Linked DNA regions of Homo sapiens: region 1 is linked to region 2. Evidence: fine-mapped expression QTL. A gene starts in region 2. The other region holds a variant in brackets. All regions are shown on one strand. Distances are from middle to middle.

Region 1 (3,006 bases), 20 kb after region 2:
AGGGTGCAGACAATCAGATGGATTTGTGAGCTTAGTTCAAAAGCCACAATCTGGGCTTCAGGATTCTCATCCATAAATAAGGGGGCCGGTCTGGGTTCTCTGCAAGGGACTTTACGTCTTGAAGATCTGGGTGTTTATTCTTCCAACCCCCTCCGCTCCCGAAGGAACATGAAGTGGCGTGGGAGTGGGGAGTGTGTCATCCACTGTCGGTAAGAGCAGGAAGCTTACCCAAGTGAACAACCACAACAGAAACCCTGCATGGCTCCAAGTCGCTGCTGAGACGCCGTCGCATCTGGGGGCGGAGGAGACGGGATGTTGAGGACCAAATGGTGGCTTCCCAGTGACGTGTCGGGAATCTGTAAATGCGGCCTTGATTGGAAAAGGGGTCTTTACAGAATTCATTCAGTTAGGGATCTTCGAATGAGACCATCCTGGATTTAGGGTGGGCCCCATATCCCACGACAAGTGTCCTTATATGCAAGGGGGGGATCTGAGGACCCAGGGAAGGCGGCCACAAGACCACAGAGGCAGCGGTTAGAACCAAGGGACGCCTGGAGCCCCCTGAAGCCGGAGGAGTCAACGAAGATCCTTCCCTGGAAGCTCCAGAGGGCGGGGGTCCTGCTGATGCCTTGAATTTTGACTTCTGCTCCAGATGATGAGAGGGTACATTTCTGTTGCTTTAAGCCACTTAGTTTGTGGTCACTGGTGATGTCAGGTACAGGAAACTCATTCAGGAGGAATTGCAGGGGGATTAAACCCCGGCAAAAGGATTGATGAGAAGTCTGTGGAGGATCATCTTTCCTTCCAGTTTCAGGTCTGGGCTCCAGCACAGCTGCCGGCCCTGTAGAGGTGGGGGAGGCGCATCGAGGAGACAAGGGGCATGCGCAGGGCAGGGGCTGGGGGGGTCGCTCGGCGCCTCTTCCCTCCCCAAGCTGGGCACCTGCTGCTACCCTGGTGGAACATTCTGGGCCTCGTGTTTGCCGGAGGCGAAGTCTCACAAAATGAAGGGAACAAGGGTGGCAGTGTGGCTGTACTTGATCTCATCTGCCCTTGGCTGTGACCCTGGAGCCCCAGAAGCCTTTGCTGTCAACCTTGGAGATGTTTAAAATGGGAAAGAGACGGCACGGGAGGAGAGTGACACCATGCTCACGCAGGGCGAGCGTGCGCCAAGGCCATGCTGCTCCTACAGAAGGCGCAGGAAACGGTGGCCCAAGTGCAGAGGCTCCGGCACACAGTGGAGCGTGGGGACCGTTTCTGGAGCACTCATCGCTCCCCACCACACCGGCAGAGCTCAGCATCTTTCCTGTGTTACACCGTGGGGTGTCTCAGCCTCCTCATGAGGGAGCTGCCGTTCTAGGCATTTTACAGATGAGGAAACTGAGGCAAAACAGCCTTCCCAAGGTCATCCTGCCAGGAAGTGGCGGGGGTGGGGTCAGAGCGGCTGAGCCTCCTGAGGTGAGGTCGGAGCAGCTGAGGCCCCAGGAGCCTCCACCTAACAGGCTCCGTGGCCTTTGTGTGTGCATGGGACCAGGTGTCTCTCCAGGGAGTGGGCCTGTCCAACTTCAAACCTGGCTGGACCTACCACGCCGATAAGTCCCAGCACGTGTTCCCACACTCAGAGCTGAGGGTTCCCCAGTGCCTGCCACCGT[A/G]GGAAGGACCAGGACACGTTTGGGGGTTACTCCTGGGCAAAGACTCCAAAACCAAGTGTGAGTCTGGAGTGCTGGGAGCCAGGGCTGAGGGGTGGAGGAGCAGGGCCGGAGCACCCCGACGGGGATGGGAGTGCACTGAGGCCCTGGACCCCCGATCTGCTGCCTCTGCTGGTGGAGCTGGGATCACAGGGCTGGGTGGGGCCCCTGACCAGGGACTCTACTTGCGGTCTGGGGTTGGGAACTGGGTTTCGGTGTTGTCCAAAGCTTTCCAGGTGGTTCTCATGGGCAGCCATGGGTTGTAGTGGAACAGTCTGGAGAGATCTGGGTTCAAACCGCAGCCCCGCCTTTCCTTGTGGGATCCTGGAGGCCATTCTTGCTCAGCCCTGAATGGAGCTCGCTGGACAGAGAAGGGGATGGTCTTGAACACGGGAACCAAAAGCCCGGTGAGGCTGCAGCATCTGCCGTTCTGTGGTGGGACAGGCTGGGGGTGGCCATGGGCGTCCTTGGAGGGCCTGTAGTTTATTCTCTGAGTCACACACTGTGGGGCACACAGAGTCCCCTGGGCAAGCTCGTTCACAGATGAGACTCAGGGTCAGAAAACCTAATGCTAGGCCTCTGCCGGGGACCCAAGCCTCCCCCAGGTGAGTGCCACCCACAGCCAGCTGAGAATGACAGGATGTAGACGCAAAGAGGCATGCTGGGGAGACCTGCTCCTGCTGTCCGCTCTCCCCCATCCACCAGGATGAAGGGGCCAGGCCCCAGCATGGCAGTGGGTGGGGAATCAACGAGGGGCTGGTGACCAGAGGACAGCGCCCAAGCCTGGCTGAGATAGGCATGAGTGGCGGTCGGTTCCGGGGCCTGATGACTATGGGCGATGTGTATCGAGCGCGGTCTGCACGTGGGGCGAGTGCCAGGGCCTCCCGTGGAGGGGCTCACTTCACCTCCCAGGACCCCTGCGAGGAAGAGACCCGAGGAGCCATTTTACTGCCAGGGAGATGGCAGCTCACAGGTTATGGCACTGTCCCAAGATCACACGACGGGCAAGCAACAGCACCAGGTTCCCACCCAGGCCACCTGCACCCCAGAGTCCACAAGCTGAGCCTCCTGCCTCCAGGGCCACCGCCCAGGAGCCCCTCCTCCTGCCTGGCCCTACCAGGCCCCCCAGCACACCTCACCCCTTCCTGGAGCAGCCCCTGCCCCTCCCTGCTCCAGGCCCTCCTTACCTGACAACGAAGGGGCCGGGTGCAGCAGAGGTGACAGAGGTGACCAGTTTGGCCGGGGAGGAGTGGACACACTGGGGTTGGCCCTCCCCCAGGGGACACCCCCCCGACGTGGTAACAGGGGAGCTGGGGGACAA
Region 2 (2,500 bases):
ACAAAGGCAAACAGGATAAAAGAAATGAAAACAGTTGCACCTTCGACTGACGTTTCTTTCAAGTGTGCGGCATTTGTACTTCTGAGGTTGTTAAAGCTGCAAACTGCTCTGAGACTCTGGGACACCTGTATGTCTGCGTTTCTTTGGCACCTCTAGTGGCCATTTACTCCTTTGCCTTTGAAGACACCCCAGGAGGTGGGTGTTCTTATCCCCATTGTGCAGAGGAAGAAAAGCTGGTCAGGAGGAGTGGGCGTCTTGCCCCAGGTCACCTAGGAGGGTCCAAGACCACGGCCATGTGACAAATCTTAGTTCTGCCAAGTCCCCTCCAGTAAAACAGCTGATTACAGGGAGACCAAGAAAGTGACACGAAGCCCTGGGGGCGCTAAAGTGTGAGGGGGTGGTCTGTCCACGCAAGCGGCACTTGCCATTTATCACAGACGAGCCCTCGCCCCAGTGCCGCACACCTGGAGCCCAGGGTCTCCTGCAGCTCCCCAGCCTCCCAGGGGCCGCCCTCCCAACCCGCCGCACTCTTGAGCCTCCTGAGAGAAGCTAAGTCGCTGGGACCTCCAGGGATGGGGGCTGTTCATGGGCACCCAAGGGCTCTGTCCCTCCTGAGCAGGAGAAGCAGAAACCCAGAAGGCACCCAGCCTGGCTGCCGACCCAGTGGCCTTGGAACAGCTGGGCAGTAAGCCCGGGCTGGCCACACCCCTCTTTCCTGCTAGGAGCGGCGGTCACATGGCCCAGGGTACGCTGGGACTGTGGCCGCTTCAGCTGCTTGGCTGAGGGTACCAGGCACCTGGACAGGGACACAGCTGAGGATCTGGGAGGAACCTGGTGTAGGGGAGAATCCTGCCGGGCTCCAGAGAACCCAGGCGAGGGCCTCCACTCAGGACCACCCGGGACCCCCGCCTGGCGCCAGGGCTCTGCAGACCCTCCGGTCCAGCTGGGCTTGCCACGGGTGCCTGGGATGTGCCTGATTCCCTGCCCCGGAACCTGGCCCCGGACACTCACCTGACAGGCAGTGGTGCAGGAGCCCAGTGAGCCCGGCCAAGTTGTGCACTAGGAGGGTCAGGGGAACACGGATCACAGAGTCCCCCGCGAGATCGGGACACCCATTACCCTGTGGGGATCCAAGAGGCTCTGAGAGGCCAGAGGGAAGTGAGGGTATTTCACGGGGAGGGAGGAGGCGGCGCAGGCAGTGGGCGGGGCCAGGAAAATCACTTTCATAAGCGTGAGTCAGCAGGGGCCCGTGATGAATGAACTTGCACACTGGGCGGGTGTCACGCTGCCTGCCTCATGGCCAGCCTTAAAGGGCCCCTGCTGGGCGGCCTGCCAGGGGGCCTAGGGTGGCGCTCCCTCCCAGCCACCTCCCCCTAGCCAGACCCCCATCCCTGGGGCTCAGTCTCTGGAGGAGGAACCAGTGACCTCTGAATGAGCCAGCCTGGCCTTTGCCATAAGCGAAGAGGAGATGGCTTTGTCCCGCACACAGTTAAAATAACAGTACCTTTAAGTGGCGAAACCCCGTCCAGTTCCCGCATTCCACCTGGATTTCACTGCACCCTCCAATCCCCAAAAGCCCTCTGGCACCAGCCTGCCTGGGCTGCGAATCCAGCTTTGCCATTTCCCAGCTGCAGGGCTCTGGCAAGCTGCCTTAGGGCCCGCACCTCAGTTTCCTCATCTGAAAACTGGGGCCAAGTCACAGATTGTCTCTACCAGAGTGGCCGTGAGGGTTTACATGACATCCTTCTTGTCTGCCATGCTTAGAACTTGAAGCCTGCTCCCAGGCTCTTCTCTCCTGTTTTATGTGGGTAGCACTGCACACCCCACACCTTGCTGTTTCTTAATTATTATTATTTTGAGAAGGAGTTTCGCTCTTGTTTCCCAGGCTGGGGTGCAATGGCGCGATCTCGGTTCACTGCAACCTACGCCTCCCGGGCTCAAGTGATTCCCCTGCCTCAGCCTCCTGAGTAGCTGAGATTACAGGCATGTGCCACCACGCCCGGCTAATTTTGTATTTTTGGTAGAGATAGGGTTTCACCATGTTGGCAAGGCTGGTCTCGAACTCCCGACCTCAGATGATCCGCCCGCCTCAGCCTTCCAAAGTGCTGGGATTACAGGCGTGAGATGCCACACCTGGCCTATTTCTGAATTATTTTATTGTCTCTCTTCCCAAACCAGAATGTGAGCTCTGTGTGGGCAGGGAAGTATATTCGTGACTGCTCTACACAGTGTCTAGAACAGCGCTTAGGACACATAGGCACTCAACATCGGTTAAACAGAAGGGAGGCAGGGAGGGAGGGAAGCAGGGGGGGAAGGAGGGAGGAAGGCAGGGAGGGAGGGAAGTAGGGAGGGAAGGAGGGAGGAAAGCAGGGAGGGAAGGAGGGAGGGAAGGAAGGAGGTAGGGAGGGAAGCAGGGGGGGAAGGAGGGAGGAAGGCAGGGAGGGAGGGAAGTAGGGAGGGAAGGAGGGAGGAAAGCAGGGAGAGAAGGAGGAAGGAGGAA

Evidence for each region. PIP is the estimated chance that this variant, and not a neighbour inherited with it, causes the effect. A credible set is the group of variants that fine-mapping cannot tell apart.
Region 1: its variant is the best candidate, but not a certain one, in a credible set for the expression of OSGIN1 in testis (GTEx, PIP 0.66).

What each region holds. Positions count from the first base shown.
Region 1 is chr16:83,931,285-83,934,290 of GRCh38, reverse strand. No RefSeq gene overlaps it. Among named protein-coding and RNA genes, the nearest start is that of OSGIN1, 20 kb to the left of the region's middle. The variant A/G (reference allele first, on the strand shown) is at 1,650.
Region 2 is chr16:83,951,882-83,954,381 of GRCh38, reverse strand. It overlaps OSGIN1 (oxidative stress induced growth inhibitor 1), which reads right to left and starts at 1,142. Exons shown (of 6, transcript NM_182981.3): 1 at 1,012-1,142. RefSeq lists an enhancer at 1-329 and a silencer at 818-867.